Linked DNA regions of Homo sapiens: region 2 is linked to region 1. The links come from fine-mapping of genetic effects on gene expression. A gene starts in region 1. The other region holds a variant in brackets. All regions are shown on one strand. Distances are from middle to middle.

Region 1 (12,854 bases):
CAGCGAGGAGTGGCCGCGCCGCCCGCCAGTGCGCCGGGCTCCGAGACCGGCAGGGGAGCACGCGGGCGAAGGAGGGGCCGCCGTCGCTGACACCACCGCCTTCAGCCCTTGGCTTCCGCGCGTCGGAGGCTGGCACCTCCAGGTTCACCGCGGCGGCCGGAGCTGTGCGGGGGCCAGACGGTTCGGCGGGAGCCGGGGCTGGGACCTGGGTGACCTGTCGTCCGCCCCTGTAGCGAGTCTCCAGTGGGCATGTTTCAGGTGGGCAGGTCCAGCATCCCCAAACCTGCCCCCCGCAGCCTGGAGGACCTGGACTCAGTGCAGCGTGTCCTGTTACACAGGTCAGTGCAGGGCCCCGGGACGCGGGGCGAGACCGTCCTCTTGCCCCGGAAATGTTGGCGAGGGAGGGGCCGCTTTTCTTTCTGGGGTCTTTCTGGAAGCATCTGACTTGGGATTCGCCTTAGTGCGGCGCTGGCCGCGAAGGGCCGTTGGGACCTGCACCCCACCCTTTCCAGAATCGGGTGCCAGCGATCCACCCTGTCCCGCTGCCGAGACTGGCCCCGCGCGGGTCCCGGTCACCCATCTCCTCCGGAAAACGCTACCTTAGGAAGAAGAGAAAGAAAGATTAAGCGAAGCTGTCCCTTAACACCTCCAGGCTTCTTCCAGCAAGCTAAGAGTTTTGTTTGAACTTTAGTTGTGACTGGAATGGAAAAGAGCTTCTTTTCTAACAAATCTAATTCTACCCCACCCCCCCAACACGCGCGCGCATGCGCTTGCGCCCACACACCAAAAACTGCACAAAAGAAATTTAAGAGTTTCTCTAGGAAGAATGAGAACCCTAACTTTCTGTAAGCTGCTAGTGCATTAATTTTCACTGCTGGTACTTTCGTCCAACCTTATCCTTTATGCAAAATAGACTAACAAATATTAAATCCTGTGGTTACAGTGATGGGTTTATAGAAGAGAAAGAAATAGTCCACATGAAGAGCAAATTGTCTTTCAATTTTAAGAGAGGATGGATGAAATACCAAGCAGTTAATGCTGCTTTAGTTCTAGGAAGGCCTGGCCTTCATAAGACGTTGTAGGGAAAAAGAACTCTTAGAAATATATCTAAAGTGTCTCTTGAATACGTTTGTGGCGAGAAAGAGTAAGTGGCGCTTCGTAAATATCTGTCAGGGGGAGGTTTATGTGAGCCCTCTCATCTGTAAACGTTTCAAGTGGCCCTTTTAAGTCTTTGTACAAAACCATATGAGCTGTAGAAATCCTGTTCTATTGGAAGTGTGAGTAAAAAAGAAAGTGTGCAAGGGAGAAATTGGGTGTCTGCGATTTCAGAGCTGTCTTCTGAAACCTGCAATTTTCTGCAGTTGGTTTCCCCCAACCCCCAAAGAGCCCCTGCCATATAAAAGAAAATATTATTAAACGAGCTGTGAAAAGGATATTCTGCTAAATTCCCAAAGAAAATTCCCCCTGCATTTGATAAAATTATAGTCCAGGAATAAATCCCAAGAAGCATTAACTAAAAACTCATTCACAGCATGACTTTGTTGTAAAGCCGGGAGGGGTGCTAATTTTAAAAGCTTAAGACCTTGCTGCAACAGAATTTCTTTATATTTCTCATGTTTTAAATGTCAAGTGCCAAAAAATTTCAAACTGATGAACACTTTAGGGTTTCAGATCCAAGGCACAAACCTGTCCGAATAAACCAGGCAAAAGAATATGTTTAAGCTATAGTCATCAAGACTGAGATGATTATTTCGGAAGTAGTGGAATATTTTTAGAATAACCTGCTCAGTATTACAATGAAAAACTACTTTATCTGAATTACAAATAACTGCTCCCATATGCTGGAGGAACCAATGGAATCTGGAACTATAAATATGTTTGTCAGTATCATGGCTAACAGTGCTTTCTTTTTAACATTATACGAAAATCTTTTTGCTACTGCAATGCATTACTCTTATTAGTGGTTATTTATTATTTAATGTTTTCAAACACGCACTTAAAAAACTTAGACATCTGTAGAGGTTTCTCTTTCATTTAATGCATCTGTGTTTCACACAAGTTCACATCTAATCAAATGTCTTTTGCTTGTATATATACAGATTTGTTTAGGCATAATATTATAGAAATTAGGGAGATTTGATAACCCTTAAATCATACTTGTACTTATCATAGTTCTCATGAAGTATATCAATGCATGGCCTATTTTAAAAGTATTACTGTTACAAAACTTTTATGTTTTTCCTTTAAAACATCCATCGTAAATTATATACAAAATTTTGGCAATTGCATTAAAGAGACTAGTAGCCATGTTATTAAGAGAAAATAACAGACTGTTTTATTTTAACGTGTTACTTTAAAGGGTAAGTCTTGTGAGTGTGTCCTTTTTTAAATTACTTGTATATTTTCCATTGCAAATATGGTTTTTAAAATGTAAAGCATTAAATTGCTGTGCTTTTGAAAAAGATACTTCAGCCAAACCAAAATTAAAGCAAAGCTGCAAACTTTTCTCTGCATGAGGTGCTAACTTCAAAATGTCAATTGTAAAATAACAATAGCTCAGCAAAATAAATTTAACTATTCTGCTTTTTGAAAAAAGTTACACATAAGTTGTCTGAGTCAAGGAAAAGCATCAGTATTGTATTTCTCAGTTACTTAAGTTATTTTTCTGTCATCTTGATTATAAGAAATAACCAAACAATACTATTAATACTCAGTATTTTGCAAATTTTTTTAAAAAAACATATGCACAATACTATTGCAAATTAATCATTTCCTTGGAGTCCTAATTCCTCTGTTGCACAGTAGTTGTGTGACTTGGCAAGACTTTTAACTTATTTATATTTTCCCCTGTTCTTTCTGTAATATAAAGGGATAATACCCACCTCACAAGGTGTTGGTGTGAATTTCTGATGATATGGAAGTGCTTTATAAAACTAAAGTTCTGTCAAATATAAGGGATTATGGTAACAACTGTTCTATAGTAAAAAACTAAAACAAAACACAAAATGATAGTTCCTAAAGATTCTGAGAAGATTCAGCCTGGTGACTTTGCCCAAGGCCTAATAGCTAATGAATGGTGCTGGTCCAGGCTGGAGTGCTGGTTTTTTGACCCCTAAGCCAATGGAGAGAGTGAACTAGAGGTGATTCTCAAAATTTTTGACGACCCAAATTTCATACTCTTACCAAAGGTGAAAATATGCAAATTCAAAATACCGCAACTATCCAGAATTCTCAGGGGGTATGCCCAATTAAGTAATATTCCTGTTAGTAAAAGAGTATGTAATATCTTTTTAAGATCTAAAAATAAAAACTAAAATGAATAATTAAAAAAAACAGCTTTTGAAAATATAATATAAAGTACACACTGCTCTGTTTCTTAAGGTATAAGGCATTAGATTTCAAGGGTTATCTCATTTGATTTTCAGCAACCCTATAGAGTAGGCAGAGATTATTATTGCTGCCTTCAGATGAGGAAACTGACTTTGTCCACTTCCACTTGGTTATTGGTGCCAAAATCAGGATGAGAACTTGGATCCCCTGACTGGAGAATGCATGGCACTTACAGATTATCAAGTGTTTTTTACAGTCGATGTCAAATTATTGTAGGATTCAACAATGCTGTGAATTTTTTTGTTTTAGGTGCTACTTAGGTCATTTGGCAGTTATTTATAAACTATGGTTTTTTGTTAATTCTCATGTCTGCCTTTTGTTTTCTACTTTCCTCTTCATCAGCAGATTGTCAGCCATCAACAATTTCCAGGGTTGTTGTATTCCTGTTTTAAGGGAGCCTTCTTTCCTTCTGATTGGCAGCTATTGATCTATAGTGGTAGAACAGCTTGCCAAACTTGTTATAATTTGTAAATGAAGATCTAAAATGAAAAGAAATAGGAGTAAATGAATTGGGTTTTGGGCTTGAGCTTTGTGCCATCTATTTTAGTCTCACTTGTGCTTCTGGATTCTCATCTGTATTCCATTACTATTCAAATGTGGAATATATGGTCTTATTGCAGGTAAGTTGTATGCATTTTAACAAGTAATTCAACTTTTATAGAGGGAAATGAGAATTTTAGACCATAATGCAATTCTGTACCTTTAGGATTGCTGAAATGTTATTTTGATATATAAACTCTGAAATCTGAAATCTTCTACATAATAAAGTCTCACTTTCTAAAATGCTATTTTGTTGGTCTACCAAGTTATTTATTCATATTTTAAAAATAATTATGGCTGTCATTATTACCACATAGTTCATAAAGTATTATTATTTCTGTGTTCACAATTAAGGCAATATTAGTTTCTAACAAAACTCTTACATAATTTTTACCTTGTAGTTTAAATTTTTAATGAATATGACCTCATGTGGCCCTATTTTCATTTACTTCTCATTGCCAGCTTCTATTACTACTAGAGAAAGAGCTCCTGAACCTGCTAACGATACTAAATATTTAATTATGTCCTTTTCTGGTGTATTTTATGTCAGAATTGTAGTTCGCCTAATCAAGATGGTAATCTATGGAAATAAGGATGTCAAGTCTCATATGCATTAAATTAAACATATTTGGGCTTCAGAAGATGGCTGGTCATTTTGTAGTGGAAAAGAGAAAATGAAAATATACCCCAGTCTAAATCTCTTAAATCTTCTTGCAATTGCTAATTATGAAACACACAGAATATTCTTATAAAGGCCCTGAAAATGGCATCCTATTCCTTTCCTTTCTTCATCCTTTCAAAAATATCTAAGCTTATTAAATATTAGCAAGGTTAGTAGAAATATGATATGTAAATTTAGAAATATGACTAATTGATACTACAACCTGAAAATTAAAATAAGGATAAAAATGATTGCTATTATTTCTTCTTTGATGAAAGATAAAGCGAGGTGGTAAATTTTGTTGTTGCTCACTTTTATCCATTTAACTAACACATGGAAGTAAATTAGCCAAGGGAGTTAACGTAACTCAGGAATATAGCTAACGTCCTAGCAGGTATACTTTCATGTGGCATTTTTTGCTCCAGTTCAACCTTGTGACAAGTGAAAGACTGAAGAGAAAAAAAAAAAAAAGACCCAGTCAGGTTCTCCAGGAGATTGTCATTTGGTGGCAATGATAGATGTATTCCTATTTAATTTAGATATAAGACAGACTGATATTAGTTATAACCTAATTTTATGGGATAGATTATGAGGAAAGAGTAGAAAAAGGAATTCTTACTGAGGTAGGAGATGTGTCTAGGAGGGCTTTTGGGAAAAGGTGCTGTTTGAATTGGATCTTGAAGAAAGGTGTAGTATTTCAACAAATGAATTTTGGGTAAGTATCATTCCACAGTAAGAGAACTGTGTGAGTAAATGAGATAAAATAGCTGTTTTATTGATGCTTTATGTGCTAGGTACTTTACATGCATTAACTCATTAGATTCCAAACAGTCCTGTGAAGTAAGTACCATTTTCTGAATTTACAGATAAGGAAAGTGAAGCTTGTGGAGGTCATTTGCTCAAGGTTACGTGGATGATGGATTCTAGAACAGGGAGAGAGGTCTGTCTGCCAGGCTTAAATTCAGGAGGTGGAAGTGGGTTCCGGCCTATTCAGGGAATGACTAGTGGGCCCGTATGCATGAAGCACAGAACTGAGGGAAAGTTTAGGGCAGTTTCTCAAGTTTGCTGAATCACTGGGGGCACTTGTTTAAAATAGAGATTTCCAGGCCCCTCTCCTGGAGATTCTGATCCTGTTGATGTGGAGCAGGGCCTCAAAATCTGTATAACAAGCTCCAGTTGATTCTTTTGAATAGACAAGTTGATCAGCTTGATTAACTTACGATGTAACATGGAATAAACCATTTAATTCTGAATTGGTGTTCAATTGTTTGTAGAATTGGAGAAAAAAATTTAAAAGAAGCTACACAGTTTGGACTTTGTTCTCTATTTAAGGAGGTGCCATGCAAGGTTTATGAGGCAGGGTATGAAACTACTAGATGCTTACAAAAAAAAATTGATGAAAAATTTGTAGGAAGAAAATGTGATATTTTCCTAAAATTTGTAAATGTCCTTTTTTAATTTCTTATTTTATTTTTTACTTCCAATAAGTTGCTTTTAAAACAAGGAAAGGTTAACTTATTAAAGAGGTAACTAAAGCACTTTTTATTTTGAAATGGAATCTTAAATCATTTCTAATGTTTAAGATTGTGGTGAAAGTAAGCATATATATTTTACCATGAAACTCAAAATAATGAGTATAGGGACTCCAGCTTTTTAAAATAATATTGTTTCTCTGATTTTAAAAGTAATACATTTTTTGTTGGATCTCAATGCTAATGGAAATATTTGTTTCCCTTCCTTCCTGTCTCCACTTTCTTCAAACTTCCGACCCCATTACTTCCTCCATCACGTTCAGCTGGCAAGGTTGCAGCCTACTTACCAGACGATAAACACTGTCACATGGAGACTGCCTCAGCTTCCTGCCTGAAACTGGCAAGTCACCATCCACACCAGCACCCTTCTTTGGCTCTTTCTTCTAGTTTTAGGGAAGAGGTGTCCAGGGAGGTCATATCCCTCCTTCTGTGCCTTGGATGCTATCCCCTCCTACCACCTCAAGGACCTCCTGTTACCAGAAAGGGGTCCCAATCCAGACCCCAAGAGAGTTCTTGGACCTTACCCAAGAAAGAATTCGGGGCAAGTTCATAGAGTAAATTGAACGCAAGTTTATTAAGAAAGTAAAGGAAAAAAGAAGGGCTACTCCATAGGCAAAGCAGCGGCATGGGCTGCTTGACTGAGTATACTTATAGTTATTTCTTGATTATATGCTAAACAAGGGGTGGATTATTCATGAGTTTTCTGGGAAAGGGGGAGTAGTACCCAGAACTGAGGGGTCTTCCCTTTTTTAGAATATATTAGATAACTTCCTGACATTGCCATGGCGTTTGTAAACTGTCATGATGCTGATGGGAGTGTCTTTTAGCAACTAATGCTCATTATCCTCACTGCTCACTGTACTCTAATTATGATTCGCGTATAGTGAGCAGTGAGGATGACCAGAGGTCACTTTTGTAGCCATCTTGGTTTTGGTAAGTTTTGGCTGGCTTCTTTACCGCAGCCTGTTTTATCAGCAAGGTCTTTGTGACCTGTATCTTGTGCCGACCTCCTATCTTGTCCTGTGACTAAGAATGCCTAACCTCCTGAGTAGCAGCCCAGTAGGTCTCAGCCTTATTTTACCCAGCCCCTATTCAAGATGGAGTCGCTCTGGTTCAAATGCCTCTGACACTCCTTTTGCCCATTACCCCTTTACAAACTCCTCCTCCTGTTCTTCAACTTTAGTAACATATAGACCTCTTTTAAGGAAAAACTATTGTGGATTTCCATGGATGACTTAAGTTTTTTAATTATAATTTTAAATAAATGAGGTATAATCTGTGCTTTATAGCTCCTATATAAGATGAAAACAATTTTATGAATTAATACAAATAAATTACAAAATGTAATCGCTGTTATAACACTATAAAAACACATTTAGAAATTAAAACAAAACCATAAAACCTAGGAAATTCAAATGTATATAGTTTAATGTACATTTGTACATGTAATATACAAATTCAAATGTACATAGTTTAATGTATATTTGTACATGTAATGTACAGTTAATGTAAATACAACTAAACTTCAGCTTAAAAGTATAAGCTGCATACTGCAGCTTGTTTGGCTGTGAGGAAGGTAAAATATACTATCCTGGCCATTTAAGTTTAATACACTTGAAAAACAGCAAGTGCCTTTGTGCTGCTTCTTAAAAGCAACAGATGAAGCTCCCATGTGAAAGACACCCTCCCTATACTAGAAAAATGTAACATTCTTATTCTCAAGGGCATAGAAGTGAAACCAAGAGAATTCTGTACAGACCTTGTTAAAATAACTTATCTTTTAAGCTTCCCAATTTAGTTTAGTTGCTTCTTCACAACTAACTATTCTTTGTCCAATCCAGTATATAAGTTAACTGACTCTAACTGCTTCTTTGGGTCTTCATTTCTTTATGAGGGCTCCCCTGCCATGTAAAACTTGGATTCTAGAGCAAGGAGAGAGGTCTGTCTGCCAGGCTCAAATTTGCGAGGTGGGAGTGGGTTCCAGCCTATTCAGGGAATGGCCAGTTGGCCTGTATAGATGAAGCACAGAACTGAGAGAAAATTTAGGGCAGTTCCCCAAGTTTGCTGAATCACAGGGGGCACTTGTTTGAAATAGAGATTTCCAGGCCCCTCCACTGGAGATTCTGATCCTGTTGATGTGGAGCAGGGCCTCAACATCTGTATAACAAGTTCCAGTTGCTTTTCTTTTGTTAATCTATTTTAGGTAAGTTTAATTCTCAGGCCCAGCTGGGACCCTAAGAAGATGGAGGTAGAGTTTTTCTGCCCCTGCAACAGCTACAATTCAGGTTCCTTTGAGTTCTCCATGCATATACCCATACCGGCCATGTGATGACTCATCTCCCATTACTCTTTCTCTGTTGGAACCATGCCATAATAACAATATAAATTAATACTTCCTCTAAGAAATTTGTCATGGCCCCACGTATACTACTTTGGTTTTTTCTGGATATTCCATTAGAACCTTGTATTTATTGTAATACTTATCACTATGTTATAATTGCCCATTAGAGAATCCCCAGCACCCAGCCTTTTAGATCATAAAATAACATTATATCCTTTTTTTACACGCTGCAACATGAACATTTCCCCCATGCTTTACTCTTTGAACACATTCTAGTTAAAATCATAATCATCATATTTTATATATATTTAACTTTTCCCCCATTATTTGACATTTTAAGATTGCTTTCAGCTTTTCACTTTTACAAATTTTATAAATTTGCATCCTTTCTCAGAGTAGATATCTAATAGTTGAATTACTGGGTTCTGAGGGAGGAAATTTCATGTAATGGTTATTGACTTAGGTTCATTTCTTGGTTGACTTTGTTGACTGCTAGCCATGTAACCATTAGTAAGATGCATAACTTCTCTAAAGCTTAGTTTCCTTATTTAATATAGAGAAAATATTTACTTCATAGTATGTGAATGCTCAGCATTGTATATGAATAAAGTGAGCAGAGCCAAGGCTGACTCTCAATCAATGCTAGCTGTTATTTTTGTACTTAAAAAATACTTGATATAGGTATTCATAAATAACAGGTAGATTTTACCTGTTTACACTTCCAACTTTAATAATGAGAACACTTAATTAGATTATAAAATTTTGAGTTAGAAAATGAACATGAAGTTGATTCCACAGGATTGCCACTCATTTGTGGCACTCTACAATACCCACTTGGGATAACCGTGAAAATGTTTGCAATTGCGAAACAATATGAAACCCATAAAACAATGGAGCGTATTTACATTAACACCTAGATCGCGTTGCTTAAAAGCGTCCATTACTTGCACGGATGAGGTCCTAAGGAAAGGTAAAGTGCGGTTTCCTTCACCTCGAAGGAAATCCAGGCTGACCGACAGCTGTTAGGCATTAGAAACACAGGACAAAGAGCAAACTGGATATCCAGCACTGGAAGAAAAAGGTGAGAAGCCCAGTGCATCTCCGCCTGTTTTAACAGGTTATGCTGCTCTAAGGAATTGCGTTCCGGAGAGCGTAAGCGGTGAAGTTTTAGCTATTTCTATCCTTCCAACTGAGAAGCCCTCCTGGAAGTTTCAGCCCATTGGCTGCTTTCTGTTCTCCCTGTTTCTTCTGGGAAGCTTCTCCGTCTCCCTGGCAACGCGACCTGCCACCAATTGCAGCTAAGGATTGGTGGTCACATGGCCTCTGCCCCTTCCCAAGCAGAGGCAACATGGCGGCCTTAGCAAGCTATAGCTGCGAGATTTGAATTACTCCACTCGTAGCTATTGCATTCCTGACGATGGCCTCTGTGGCTTCGTGCGATTCGCGTCCGAGCTCAGACGAGCTCCCTGGAGACCCCTCTTCACAAGAAGAAGATGAGGACTATGATTTTGAAGATCGGGTCAGCGACTCGGGTTCATATTCCTCAGCGAGTAGCGATTATGAGTAAGGTTTTCAAAGAGGGACAATTAATCCCATCCCATCAATCCAGAGAATATACACGTGGGCTGGGGGAACTGCAAGGGTGTTGGCGTGGTTGGAATCGAGTATTTGGGGTTCTATAATAAGTGGGATTTAATTGCACCACGTTCCATTGTATGGTGGTGTGAGCAGAAATGACGATGCCATTCTTTGCTACTGTAGGTTGTTTTTTGTTTGTTTTGTTTTGTTTTTTCAATGATTCTTAGATGAGGAGAATCTCCTCTTTTTGGTCATGGGCTCTGTCTAGGCCATAGGAGGATATATCTGTAACAGCGTTCAAAAAACTCTGTTTCGATCGCAGTGTCTTGATTCTTTGGTGTGACCTTTGTGGCTTAATCTCTTTAGTATTTGGAGTGGAGAGACACCCTACGCGTTTTATAAGGCAGTTGTTAAATTTATGTAGATTTTTTCTGTTATGGAAATGAATAGCTATATAACAGAAGGAACGCCCACCCATAGTCTCACCATCAAGGACAACCTCTCAGCACTTCTGGATATTTCTGCTGTATTTTCCTATGCATCTCCATGATTTTCTTGTTTTCCATTTTACGTCATAATTTAATTTTTAAAAATACAGATACCTAAAGGTTTCACTTTCTTAATAATGCCATGAAAAGGTTATTTTGATTCACAGTATTCAGTGCTACTTCATTTTTAAGAAAAATCTACCCCTTACTGCTATGGATTAAGAACTTTAGAAAAGTCAACTAGCAGTAGCTTGAAGAGAATGACTAATCGTGAAAAAGTTTTGGTGCCAAAATGTCAACTAACCCAGTAATGGACAACCATACCTGGTCAGTTTTAGGATGACATTTTATGTGTATTTAGGAACAACAGTTACAAATCATTTATATGTATGTAGGAGCAACTGTTATTTGGCAATTGTTTTTACCTATCAGTATGTAAAAGATTTTTATCATTGCCTTTAAAAGTATGGTGGGGAAACCTGTTTAATACATTCTTGAAGACTTAAACAAATTTTAAAATATCGTATTTTTTTGTAATCTGCTGTAGGCATTAAAAAAATAATTTTAAAATTCATGATTATTACACAAGGCTGCTGGAAGGAAATATGAATTACATAGAACCTTATTTGGTCTTGGTATGTGAAGCCATAGACAGTGTAAGACTCAAACTCTTGGCTTCTCCACATTTTAGAGTCGCATACTTTTAGCCCAGAAAGAATCTATGATTCATGTATAGTTGCACAGCTGAGTGTTGTCAGTGTGAGAATTCAAGACGCCTGATACCTAATGGGCCACCATGACTTTGATGGGATTAAAATAGTGAACTTTGTTTCCTAGGAAATGACCAATCTGAGGACCTTGTGATAGGAGAACTTGTCACTTAAAAGAATAAAAGTATTTCATGATTCAAAATACATGTATGTATGTTATATTTTAGCTTTTAAAAAATGATCATTAAGCTTTTCACATGTCACTAATCACGCCACATGTTCTAGTGTCTTTATCCTCCTAATAATAAAAGTATAGAAAATCCCTATCATAAGATGTTTTGCTGGTCTGTATTTCAAGTCCTACCAAGTTTCAAATTTTAAGTCTGTCCCTTCTTGATTTGTAGGACATGAGGGTTAATTTGCTGAACTTACCAGGAAGGCTTATGTTCGGTTCTTCCCTTATGGTAGATGTTTACTTCCCTAAGCTGCAGTCATCATTACAAACAGTGGCCTTCCCAACTTGTACAGAACCACTCTTTAATCAAAGGCACAGGAATGCCAACCTTAGTCTTTCTCATTAAAGCAAAGACATGAATTTCCTATTGTATTTCATGGACTACGTGAAGCTTACTAAGGAAGTTGTACTGCATATTGACTCACATAAAGTATCCTGAATTTTCAAGGTTTTAGTTAACTGCGTGTTCTTTTTAGAAGTTACTGTTTCATACATGCTTTGTACCTGAGCTGTATGTGATTGTCAATATAGAATTTAAAAGTTTATCATCTTGGAGATAAAATTACATTATGGTAAATTCTGGTAGAGTTCTTTTAATAGGTTTGTTTTAGGTTTGTTAGAGAATAAGAGTTTATATTGCTGCAGTATGTCTTAAGTTGACACATGGGCACATACCCTGGGAGGCTTCCGAGATAATACTGGTGGGTTGGTTGGGTTGAGGGAGCCATTAGCTAGTTTTAGCATTAAGATAACAGAAATCACACATTCACCTGCAACAATGCCAAGTTACCAGCTAATATGCCTAGTTCATGTTACAGAGAGTTTGTCAATGTTGTGACTTGGATTTTTAATTTTTCAAAGTGAATTTTTTGTTGTTGTTACATCAGTTTTAAAACTGGCTGATGGAGAGAAACAGGAATCATTTTAAATGAGATATTAGCTGTTAAAGCTAAGGAACTTCCACCTAAAACACAAGGATTGGCTGGAGAAGGGAGGTATGTCCTTTAAATTTTTTTCTGGGACTTTAAAAATAGCTTCATTGAAGGATAATTTATATACAAAAAACTGCACATATTTTTAATGTACAATTTGATGTTTTAACATGTATACGTCTGTCAAGAAAATGAACATATCCATCTCGCCTAAGAGTCTCCCCATGTACCTACTTAAGTCCATTTATGCCTCTCCTGATAACCATTTATCTGCTTTTTGTCACTCTATAGGAGTTTGTAGTTTCTAAAGTTTCATAAAGATGGAATTGTGCAGTATGAATGTTCTTTTTTGTCTGCCTTCTTTTATTCAGCATAATTACTTTGAGATTCATCCATGTTGTTGCCCCCATTAATAGTTCATCTCTCGGCTAGGTATGGTGGCTCATA
Region 2 (12,854 bases), 28 kb after region 1:
ATAAACATACGTGTGCATGTGTCTTTATAGCAGCATGATTTATAGTCCTTTGGGTATATACCCAGTAATGGGATGGCTGGGTCAAATGGTATTTCTAGTTCTAGATCCCTGAGGAATCGCCACACTGACTTCCACAATGGTTGAACTAGTTTACAGTCCCACCAACAGTGTAAAAGTGTTCCTATTTCTCCACATCCTGTCCAGCACCTGTTGTTTCCCGGCTTTTTAATGATTGCCATTCTAACTGGTGTGAGATGGTATCTCATTGTGGTTTTGATTTGCATTTCTCTGATGGCCAGTGATGAGCATTTTTTCATGTGTTTTTTGGCTGCATAAATGTCATCTTTTGAGAAGTGTCTGTTCATGTCCTTCTCCCACTTTTTGATGGGGTTGTTTGTTTTTTTCTTGTAAATTTGTTTGAGTTCATTGTAGATTCTGGATATTAGCCCTTTGTCAGATGAGTAGGTTGCAAAAATTTTCTCCCATTTTGTAGGTTGCCTGTTCACTCTGATGGTAGTTTCTTTTGCTGTGCAGAAGCTCTTTAGTTTAATTAGATCCCATTTGTCAATTTTGTCTTTTGTTGCCATTGCTTTTGGTGTTTTAGTCATGAAGTCCTTACCCGTGCCTATGTCTTGAATGGTAATGCCTAGGTTTTCTTCTAGGGTTTTTATGGTTTTAGGTCTAAGGTTTAAGGCTTTAATCCATCTTGAATTGATTTTTGTATAAGGTGTAAGGAAGGGATCCAGTTTCAGCTTTCTACATATGGCTAGCCAGTTATCCCAGCACCATTTATTAAATAGGGAATCCTTTCCCCATTGCTTGTTTTTCTCAGGTTTGTCAAAGATCTGATAGTTGTAGATAAGCGGCGTTATTTCTGAGGGCTCTGTTCTGTTCCATTGATCTATATCTCTGTTTTGGTACCAGTACCATGCTGTTTTGGTTACTGTAGCCTTGTAGTATAGTTTGAAGTCAGGTAGGGTGATGCCTACAGCTTTGTTCTTTTGGCTTAGGATTGCCTTGGCGATGCGGGCTCTTTTTTGGTTCCATATGAACCTTAAAGTAGTTTTTTCCAATTCTGTGAAGAAAGTCATTGGTAGCTTTATGGGGATGGCATTGAATCTGTAAATTACCTTGGGCAGTATGGCCATTTTCACGATATTGATTCTTCCTACACATGAGCATGGAATGTTCTTCCATTTGTTTGTATCCTCTTTTATTTCCTTGAGCAGTGGTTTGTAGTTCTCCTTGAAGAGGTCCTTCACATCCCTTGTAAGTTGGATCCCTAGGTATTTTATTCTCTTTGAAGCAATTGTGAATGGGAGTTCACTCATGATTTGGCTCTCTGTTTGTCTGTTATTGGTGTATAAGAATGCTTGTGATTTTTGTACATTGATTTTGTATCCTGAGACTTTGCTGAAGTTGCTTATCAGCTTAAGGAGATTTTGGGCTGAGACAATGGGGTTTTCTAGATATACAATCATGTCGTCTGCAAACAGGGACAATTTGACTTCCTCTTTTCCTAATTGAATACCCTTTATTTCCTTCTCCTGCCTAATTGCCCTGGCCAGAACTTCCAACACTATGTTGAATAGGAGTGGTGAGAGACGGCATCCCTGTCTTGTGCCAGTTTTCAAAGGGAATGCTTCCAGTTTTTGCCCATTCAGTATGATATTGGCTGTGGGTTTTGTCATAGATAGCTCTTATTATTTTGAAATACGTCCCATCAATACCTAATTTATTGAGAGTTTTTAGCATGAAGGGTTGTTGAATTTTGTCAAAGGCTTTTTCTGCATCTATTGAGATAATCATGTGGTTTTTGTCTTTGGCTCTGTTTATATGCTGGATTACATTTATTGATTTGCATATATTGAACCAGCCTTGCATCCCAGGGATGAAGCCCACTTGATCATGGTGGATAAGCTTTTTGATGTGCTGCTGGATTCGTTTTGCCAGTATTTTATTGAGGATTTTTGCATCAATGTTCATCAAGGATATTGGTCTAAAATTCTCTTTTTTGGTTGTGTCTCTGCCCGGCTTTGGTATCAGAATGATGCTGGCCTCATAAAATGAGTTAGGAAGGATTCCCTCTTTTTCTATTGATTGGAATAGTTTCAGAAGGAATGGTACCAGTTCCTCCTTGTACCTCTGGTAGAATTCGGCTGTGAATCCATCTGGTCCTGGACTCTTTTTGGTTGGTAAACTATTGATTATTGCCACAATTTCAGCTCCTGTTATTGGTCTATTCAGAGATTCAACTTCTTCCTGGTTTAGTCTTGGGAGAGTGTATATGTCGAGGAATTTATCCATTTCTTCTAGATTTTCTAGTTTATTTGCGTAGAGGTGTTTGTAGTATTCTCTGATGGTAGTTTGTATTTCTGTGGAATCGGTGGTGATATCTCCTTTATCATTTTTTATTGTGTCTATTTGATTCTTCTCTCTTTTTTTCTTTATTAGTCTTGCTAGTGGTCTATCAATTTTGTTGATCCTTTCAAAAAACCAGCTCCTGGATTCATTAATTTTTTGAAGGGTTTTTTGTGTCTCTATTTCCTTCAGTTCTGCTCTGATTTTAGTTATTTCTTGACTTCTGCTAGCTTTTGAATGTGTTTGCTCTTGCTTTTCTAGTTCTTTTAATTGTGATGTTAGGGTGTCAATTTTGGATCTTTCCTGCTTTCTCTTGTGGGCATTTAGTGCTATAAATTTCCCTCTACACACTGCTTTGAATGCGTCCCAGAGATTCTGGTATGTTGTGTCTTTGTTCTCGTTGGTTTCAAAGAACATCTTTATTTCTGCCTTCATTTCGTTATGTATCCAGTAGTCATTCAGGAGCAGGTTGTTCAGTTTCCATGTAGTTGAGCAGTTTTGAGTGAGATTCTTAATCCTGAGTTGTAGTTTGATTGCACTGTGGTCTGAGAGATAGTTTGTTATAATTTCTGTCCTTTTACATTTGCTGAGGAGAGCTTTACTTCCAACTATGTGGTCAATTTTGGAATAGGTGTGGTGTGGTGCTGAAAAAAATGTATATTCTGTTGATTTGGGGTGGAGAGTTCTGTAGATGTCTATTAGGTCCACTTGGTGCAGAGCTGAGTTCAATTCCTGGGTATCCTTGTTGACGTTCTGTCTCGTTGATCTGTCTAATGTTGACAGTGGGGTGTTAAAGTCTCCCATTATTAATGTGTGGGAGTCTAAGTCTCTTTGTAGGTCACTCAGGACTTGCTTTATGAATCTGGGTGCTCCCGTGTTGGGTGCATATATATTTAGGATAGTTAGCTCTTCTTGTTGAATTGATCCCTTTACCATTATGTAATGGCCTTCTTTGTCTCTTTTGATCTTTGTTGGTTTAAAGTCTGTTTTATCAGAGACTAGGATTGAAACCCCTGCCTTTTTTTGTTTTCCATTTGCTTGGTAGATCTTCCTCCATCCTTTTATTTTGAGCCTATGTGTGTCTCTGCACGTGAGATGGGTTTCCTGAATACAGCACACTGATGGGTCTTGACTCTTTATCCAATTTGCCAGTCTGTGTCTTTTAACTGGAGCATTTAGTCCATTTACATTTAAAGTTAATATTGTTATGTGTGAATTTGATCCTGTCATTATGATGTTAGCTGGTGATTTTGCTCGTTAGTTGATGCAGTTTCTTCGTAGTCTCAATGGTCTTTACATTTTGGCATGATTTTGCAGCGGCCGGTACCGGTTGTTCCTTTCCATGTTTAGTGCTTCCTTCAGGAGCTCTTTTAGGGCAGGCCTGGTGGTGACAAAATCTCTCAGCATTTGCTTATCTGTAAAGTATTTTATTTCTCCTTTGCTTATGAAGCTTAGTTTGGCTGGATATGAAATTCTGGGTTGAAAATTCTTTTCTTTAAGAATGTTGAATATTGGCCCCCACTCTCTTCTGGCTCGTAGGGTTTCTGCCGAGAGACCCGCTGTTAGTCTGATGGGCTTCCCTTTGAGGGTAACCCGACCTTTCTCTCTGGCTGCCCTTAACATTTTTTCCTTCATTTCAACTTTGGTGAATCTGACAATTATGTGTCTTGGAGTTGCTCTTCTCGAGGAGTATCTTTGTGGCCTTCTCTGTATTTCCTGAATCTGAACGTTGGCCTGCCTTGCTAGATTGGGGAAGTTCTCCTGGATAATATCCTGCAGAGTGTTTTCCAACTTGGTTCCATTCTCCCCATCACTTTCAGGTACACCAATCAGACGTAGATTTGGTCTTTTCACATAGTCCCATATTTCTTGGAGGCTTTGCTCATTTCTTTTTATTCTTTTTTCTCTAAACTTCCCTTCTCGCTTCATTTCATTCATTTCATCTTCCATTGCTGATACCCTTTCTTCCAGTTGATTGCATCGGCTCCTGAGGCTTCTGCATTCTTCACGTAGTTCTCGAGCCTTGGTTTTTAGCTCCATCAACTCCTTTAAGCACTTCTCTATACTGGTTATTCTAGTTATACATTCATCTAAATTTTTTTCAAAGTTTTCAACTTCTTTGCCTTTGGTTTGAATGTCCTCTCGTAGCTCAGAGTAATTTCATCGTCTGAAGCCTTCTTCTCTCAGCTCGTCAAAGTCATTCTCCATCCAGCTTTGTTCCGTTGCTGGTGAGGAACTGCGTTCCGTTGGAGGAGGAGAGGTGCTCTGCGTTTTAGAGTTTCTAGTTTTTCTGTTCTGTTTTTTCCCCATCTTTGTGGTTTTATCTACTTTTGGTCTTTGATGATGGTGATGTACAGATGGGTTTTTGGTGTGGATGTCCTTTCTGTTTGTTAGTTTTCCTTCTAACAGACTGTACCCTCAGCTGCAGGTCTGTTGGAATACCCTGCCGTGTGAGGTGTCAGTGTTCCCCTGCTGGGGGGTGCCTCCCAGTTAGGCTGCTCGGGGGTCAGGGGTCAGGGACCCACTTGAGGAGGCAGTCTGCCCATTCTCAGATCTCCAGCTGCGTGCTGGGAGAACCACTGCTCTCTTCAAAGCTGTCAGACAGGGACATTTAAGTCTGCAGAGGTTACTGCTGTCTTTTTGTTTGTCTGTGCCCTGCCCCCAGAGGTGGAGCCTACAGAGGCAGGCAGGCCTCCTTGAGCTGTGGTGGGCTCCACCCAGTTGGAGCTTCCTGGCTGCTATGTTTACCTAAGCAAGCCTGGGCAATGGGGGGCGCCCCTCCCCCAGCCTCGCTGCCGCCTTGCAGTTTGATCTCAGACTGCTGTGCTAGCAATCAGCGAGACTCCGTGGGCGTAGGACCCTCCGAGCCAGGTGCGGGATATA[A/G]TCTCGTGGTGCGCCGTTTTTTAAACCGGTCCGAAAAGCGCAATATTCGGGTGGGAGTGACCCGATTTTCCAGGTGCGTCCGTCACCCCTTTCTTTGACTCGGAAAGGGAACTCCCTGACCCCTTGCGCTTCCCAAGTGAGGCAATGCCTCGCCCTGCTTTGGCTTGCACACGGTGTGCGCACCCACTGACCTACGCCCACTGTCTGGTACTCCCTAGTGAGATGAACCCGGTACCTCAGATGGAAATGCAGAAATCACCTGTCTTCTGCGTCGCTCACACTGGGAGCTGTAGACGGGAGCTGTTCCTATTTGGCCATCTTGGCTCCTCTGTTTTGTTTTTACTGTGGGTCTAAGTGGTTAGATTCAGTTTTGTCAAGTACAGTATTTGGTTCATGCTAACAAATTTTCCATTTGTTCTTTGGGTTTACATAATTCTCCCAATTGTATCAAGAATAAAAATAGTTATTTTTTAAAATATTCATAGGTTGTATTATTTATGGTGCAATAATGGGCAGTATTATAGATTAAGAAGAGTAAAGTTAGGAGAGTAGCCCTGCCACCAATGAGCTGTATAAACCTGGACAAGTTCCTGCTTGTCTGCACCAGATTTCTCACTGTACTTTGAGGATGTCAGAGTAGCTGTTTAATGTTCCAATTCTAGACCTCTATGGTTTTTAGATATTCATAAAACTATCTTTTATTGTTATTCTGGTTTCAGGTGATGTCCTTGTTGCTGTGAATGATGTCGATGTTACTACTGAAAACATCGAGAGAGTTCTGTCTTGCATTCCTGGACCTATGCAGGTATGGACATTCTTTTTCTATATTTTATGATGTTACATAAAATAAATATATAAATATATCGTGCACTATTTTCCTTTTTAAGCGTCTGAAAAGTATCATGTATAATGGATGAGTTACACTGATACTTGCCTATTTAAGAAAATTTAGCTCTTGCTAATATTATTAGCTTCTGGAGATTATTCTAAAAAGAGAGAAAAATATCTACAAGTAAAATTCTACATAAAGCAGTAACAGCAACAGTAATGAAAACATACATAATTGCAAACTTGCCATTATAACTACCATATATGCTTGTGACAATCTGGTTCCTAGAAGAGTCATTTTAAATAGTCAGGGAGTTTTCTGTTCTCTGACTTACTAAGATCACTGTTGCTATAATGTTTTTTTTTCCAATGTGATTTTATTTTAAAAACAAATCATACAAGTTTCTTGATTTTTTTTGTTATTTAATTAAGCTTTTCTCCTGGACTTTTGTTTGGCTACTTAAGGAATTATTTTTCAATCCTTGTAGATAGAAATAAATTTATTTTATAAAAAGTAATTTTGATACCCTAAACATTGACATTGTGTATCGTAGATGATGTTTTTCAGTTATTAGGGGTATTTTGCAAGTGCTATACCTTTTGGTAACAGAGTATACCATGAATACTCTGTTCTAGATAGCATCAGGAATTAGCATTCTCTTTTTGGGGGGATAGGGAAGATTATATGCTTTATGTGGGTTAGAGCAGGGGTCCCCAAACCCTGGGCCACGGACTGGTAGTGGTTCGTGGCCTGTTAGGAACTGGACTCCACAGCAGGAAGTGAGCAGTGGGCAAGCGAGCAAAGCTTCATCTGTATTTACAGCTGCTCCCCATCGCTCACATTAGTGTCTGAGCTCCACCTCCTGTTAGATCAGGGGTGGCATTAGATTCTCCTAGGAGCACGAACCCTATTGTGATCTGTGCATGAAAGGAAGGGATCTAGGTTGTATGCTCCTTATGAGAATCTAATGCCTGATGATTTGTCACTGTCTCCCATCACCCCCAGATGGGACCATCTAGTTGCAGGAAAACAGATTCAGGGTTCCCACTGATTCTACATTATGGTGAGTTGTATAATTATTTCATTATATATTACAATGTATTATAATAATAATAGAAATAAAGTGCACAATAAATGTAATGTGCTTGAATCATCCTGAAACCGTCCCCCAACCCTGGTCTGTGGAAAAATCGTCTTGCATGAAACCAGGCCCTGGTGCCAAAAAGTCTGGAGACTGGTGGGACAGAGGACCCATCAGGCAGTGAGAGGATGAAGTCGTTTTTGGATTGGTCAGGTTGAAGAATAGAATCCCTGATAAATCAGAATCTCAGCTGCATCTGATTTGAGATTCTGAAATAATAAGGCACATGATGAAATTCCTTATTTTCTGGGAAACAAGGTTTCCCTAATGCCCATTTATTTGTTTTAAACATACTTTGTATGCACATGTATGTGTGCGCATGCACACACACACACAGATGCTCTGTAAATTTAGCTATCTTTGGAAATGTAAAATGAAAGTGCTGGAATAACTATGGTAGCTGAGACCAGCAATGCCTAGGAATGGATAGCGAGATGGAGATGGAGATGGGGTGGTGTTTGAAATAGTAACAATCAGGGGGACATCAGCCAGCCATGGTGCTAGAGTAGGTTGTACTGTTACCCACTTTAGTCACTAGATGTGGGGAGGTCCAACAGAGGGTACTAGGGTACTTCAGGGTGCTCAGACAGCAGCTACTTATTGATTAATAGTGAAGAATTGCAGTATTTTGACAAGTGAGTCAGCTTCCCCCAAGTGGAGTAGCTATGTATTATCCTGAGTGAGGGATCCCCTTTTCTTGCCTATGTTGGTTGCAGGTGTGCTTCCAGTATTGCCAGAGTTCAATCATGTCTATTCTTTCTTCAAAAATATGAAAAGTTATGTTTACAGCAGAATCACATTATACTTATATTTAATTAACCTTTGCAAATTCAACTGTGCACACTTAGCAGAAGAAAAAGGGAGAGAAAGAAATTAGGATTTAATATTTTGGACCAGTTCCATCCACAATTAATCCATCCTTGTTAAACATGCAAGAGGAGTCAAGTATACATTTATTGTATGCACGATTTCTATTAGTATGAAATAATTATACAACTCACCATAATGTAGAATCAGTGGGAGCCCTGAGCTTGTATTCCTGCAACTAGATGGTCCCATCTGGGGGTGACAGGAGACAGTGACAGATTATCATGCATTAGATTATCATAAGGAGTGCACAACCTAGATCCCCCACATGCACAGTTCACAACAGGTTTTGTGTTCCTGGGAGAATCTAATGTCACCACTGATCTGACAGGAGGTAGAGCTCAGGCAATAATGTGAGTGATGGGGAGTGGCTATAAATATGAATGAAGCTTCGCTCACTGGCCACTCACCTCCTGCTATGCCACCTGGTTCCTAATGGTTCTGGTACCTGTCCATGGCCTGTAAGAAGATGCCCTTATCCTTAGGAGATACCTGCTGAAGTACTTAGGGACAATGTGTTAAAATACCTGCAAATAATTTGCAGGTTCAGCCAAGAAACTTAAAAAATACATATAGAGAAGAGAGGAGTATGGAAGGAAAGGAAAGGAAGACCAGAGAGAAGAGACAAAATGAAGCAAATGTGACAAAATGTGAGCAATAGTGCCATTAGGTGTGGGATTATGGGCAATCATTGTTCTCTTCTTACAACTTTTCTGTAGTTTTAAAATTTCTAAAATAAAATGTTGATTTAAAGAAGAGGTTTTCGAAATTTTAAATAACAAGAACAAAGGTGCAAATACCCATCTAATTGTTGACTTTTGTGACCCTGATCCGTTTCTGCAGCTCTGTGCTCTCATTCATTTAACAGGTACATAATCATGCTTGTAGTACATCGTCTCTTCCCGTCTTTATCCGGGAGCTTGGGTCCAAATTTTGCAGATGACGAAGACTGATTTCATTTAGTACTGGGCCATAGCTGGCTTTTTTAGAGCTTTGGAGGAACCTAACTCCTTTTCTAGGAGAACAGCCTGAAGATTATTAGTCTTGGACTCTTCTTTCTCAGGTAGTTCTTAGGCCTAAAGGAGGGGGCAAAGGCTTCTTAAAGGAAATGATTCTTGAGTGGAGTGTTTTAACTTTTATTATTTCCTTGTTACACAGAAATGATACATATACTGTGGAAAAATTAGAAAACAAACTAGTAAAATTTTTTAAATATTTGTAAATCTATTCTCAGAACCCAGAAGTAACCATTTATATCAACATTTTAAAGTGCAGGACTTACATGCAAATCAAATTTGCATTTTAGGAATATATCACTCTGGATGGGGGAGGCATATGCAAGACAGGAGGTCAGGAAACCAGGTGGTTGGGTTTGCAGTAGTCCAGAAGAGAGATGATAAAGGCCTGAGCCTTTATTGACCGGGGATGGAGGAGGAGATTAGATTTAAGATAGAGAGGAAGGAAAGAGGACAATATTTTCTACAGGAGAGAGAGAAGTCCAAGAAGCCTTCCAAGTTTTGTCTTGAGTCACTCAGTGAGGTGGCCCAAGAAGAGAAGAGGATGGAGGAGAGATAATCTGCTGAGCCAGTCAGACTCGATTCCCTCAGAATTTTGACTAAGGAGTATTGAAATCATCTGCCAGCTGTTAGCCAACAGGGAAAGGACAACACATGCAGAGAGCAGTGTAGATGATGGGAGAGACGGTGCAGACTGAAGCAGAGGTGACAGACTGGTCAGCTTCCACAGCTGCTGCAGATTCTGACAGCCTCCCCAGGTCCCATCTGTGAAGAGGATGGTAGCTAAAGGGGAATCAGAGGATTTCTTTGTTTGGTAGATGATTTCTTTGTTTGGAAGAGACATTGCTTTTTAAATAGGATGGGCTAAAGACTGAAGTAGAAAGAAAAGACAAAGCAACAAGACTTTGGAAGTGATGAGTCATAGAGAGTGCGTCCTTGGGTCTGAGGAAAGGCTGGGCAAACCGCACAAAGAAGAGGGACATAGGACACGAAGGATCCTGAACCTTGTACCAGGTTAAAGTCTCACCGAGTAATAAGAGAAAACCCTTTATAAGAAGCTTCATGTAAACTAACTTATGTTAAGTATCATTTAATAAAAGTTTTTCCCTATAAAACATATAATATCCCTAATATTTATGTATATCAACCTATTTTTTAAAATAGCACTTAACTCTTAATTTGGTTATCTGTCTCACCCTTTACCATTTTATCAAGGCAACCAGATTTCCTGACATTTGTAGCTACTTAACATGTAAGCTTTTAAAAATGTCTTTTTAAAGTATAATTTTATTTGTATTATGGAGCCAACTTTACTTAAATCAGAAGAATAGTGGCTGAAATAGTTCCCTAAGGAATTTTAATGGATGGTTCGGTGGTGTGTGTTTTTGTTTGAGTTTTTGTTGTGGTGAGACAAAAAGGTCCTTGCACCACAGAAAATAAATGATGTTGTTTGCCAAGTATAACACTAGTTTTCAAGTATGTTGTTTTTCACCAAGCATAGCAAACCAATCTTAAATTTGAGGTTGTTGCTGCTGCCTGAAGAAAATTGGTGAATTTTTGAGTCTATTTTTGGTAGACTTAAAAATTTCCCTTTTTTTATTTTTGGTAGGTTGCACCCTACCTCTCCACCCATAAGAATCTCAGCTGGGAAAGATGCCTTCCTTGTTCTGAGATGCGTTTCTTTCTCTGAGGACCCGCTTTCTTGTCACCACTTCTTATGCACAACTCTCATAGACACTCCAGCTTCATCTCTGTGACACCTGCTTCCCTAGGATGTGACTCATCTCATGCTCCCTCTGATTTGATTTCTCCCCTTCTGTACCGCTCACACATCTCCACTCAGAGCTCCTTCCTAAAGCCCAATGCCAGGGGACAATCTTCAGAGCTCCCATCTATCTGTCACAAAGTCTATACTCAGGAATTCCCCAAAGAGTTCTCAAATTTCCAGGGAACACCACCAAAGTCTTCCATATACTTTCTTTTGGGTACTCCTAAATCCTCATTCTCAGATAAAGGAATTTGGGGTAGATACCCAGTAGAGGGGTTGCTGGATCTAATAATAGATCTGCTTTTAGTTCTTTTAGAAGTCTTCATACTGTTTTCCATAGAGGTTGTACTAATTTACATTTCCACCAGCAGGGCATAAGCGTTCCCTTTTCACCACGTCTGCTCCATCTATTGTTTTTTGACTTTTTAATAATGTCCATTCTGGTTGGAGTAAGGTGGTAGGTACCTCATTTTATTTTAACTTGCATTTCCCTGATGATTAGTCATGTTGAGCATTTTTTCATGTTTGTTGACCATTTGTATATCTTCTTTTGACAAATGTCTGTTCAAGTCATTTGCCCACTTTTTAATGGGATTACTTTTTTCTTGCTGATTTGAGTTCTTTAGAGATTCTGAATATTAGTTTTTTTGTCAGATGCGTAGTTTGCAACTATTTTCTCCCATCCTGTAGGTTGTTTACTCTGTTGATTATTTATTTTGCTGTGCAAAAGCTTTTTAGTTTAATTGGGTCCCATTTATTTATTTTCGTTTTTGTTGCATTTGCTTTTGGAGTCTTAGTCATAAATTCTTTGCCTATGCCAGTATCCAAAGAGTACATTTTCTTCTGGAATTGTTATGGTTTCAGGTCTTAGATTTAAGTCTTTAATCCATCTTAAGTTAATTTTTGTGTACGGTGAGAGACAGAGTTTCATTCTTCTATGTGTGGCTATCCAATTTTGGTACTTCTTTGAAATGAACGAGTTATCTTTGACCAATTGGTATCTAGACAAATATTTCCTTTTCCAAGGATAGGTAATTTTAATACTTCATCCCTAAGTACTTTGAAATGTATCTCCTAAGAATAAGGGCATCCTCTTACACCAGGGGTCCCCAACCCCCAGGCCACAGACCAGTACCAGAACCATTAGGTAATTGAGAAATGGAGGCTACCTTTCCATACCTGTGGAAAATGGCCACATTCTGGACTCTTACCAATCTTGACATCAGGCCATGAAATTAAAACTCTCTTGATAAAATTGATAATCTTCTTAGAGCCATGTTGGTCTAAGATCCAGCATGCTGATAGCGTTTACTTTCCTTGGCCTTTGTTTTAAAGAACCAGAAAGAATGTCTGAGAGAAGAATATTTGAAATACCACCTTATTTGAAAGGAGAGTTAACTTTGGTTGTGTGAAGTCACTCTTAATGCTGAATGTCTTCCTTCTATCTTCCCAGATAAGCCAGTGCTATCGGCATTGATATTGTGGTGTTATTCTTTTTGCACTATCAGATCATACTAATTTCTGGTTTTTGATGGCCTTTCTTATTTTTATAGTCAACAATTTAGACTGCAATGATTATGTTTAATTAAATGAATTTTATACAGAACATTATAATTCTTATTCAATAAATATTTGTGGTAATATGTATCAGACACTCTCCTAGGAGCCGAAGATACAAATATAAATAGAATACGTAGTCCCAGCCATCAGGAGCACTCACTCTAGGATGATTTATATATACTGTACATACCTGGGTGTATGTACATGCACAGATCCTTCATTGTGAAAACTGCAGCTGATTTTCCCTTGTCGAAAAGTCAACACATTGTTTTAATTTTTAAAGGTGAAACTGACATTTGAAAATGCATATGATGTGAAAAGGGAGACGTCCCATCCAAGACAGAAAAAGACACAGTCCAACACAAGTGATTTAGTCAAGCTTCTCTGGGGAGAAGAGGTTGAAGGTATCCAGCAGAGTGGCCTAAACAC

Which allele goes with the higher level. Alleles are on the strand shown, and positions count from the first base shown. SD is a standard deviation of normalised expression in the study named.
For the expression in iPS cells of the gene that starts at base 9,804 in region 1, A is the low allele of the variant in region 2 and G is the other (large effect, 1.2 SD a copy in iPSCORE).

Evidence for each region.
Region 2: its variant is fine-mapped to the expression of INTU in iPS cells (iPSCORE, PIP 0.95).

What each region holds. Positions count from the first base shown.
Region 1 is chr4:127,623,154-127,636,007 of GRCh38, forward strand. INTU (inturned planar cell polarity protein) reads left to right here and starts at 9,804. Exons shown (of 16, transcript NM_015693.4): 1 at 9,804-10,027. The coding sequence starts at 9,882. RefSeq lists enhancers at 9,452-9,991, 9,654-9,833.
Region 2 is chr4:127,650,673-127,663,526 of GRCh38, forward strand. INTU (inturned planar cell polarity protein) reads left to right here. Exons shown (of 16, transcript NM_015693.4): 3 at 5,964-6,049; 4 at 12,709-12,854. Among named protein-coding and RNA genes, the nearest start is that of INTU, 24 kb to the left of the region's middle. RefSeq lists enhancers at 4,675-5,275, 5,276-5,874. The variant A/G (reference allele first, on the strand shown) is at 5,245.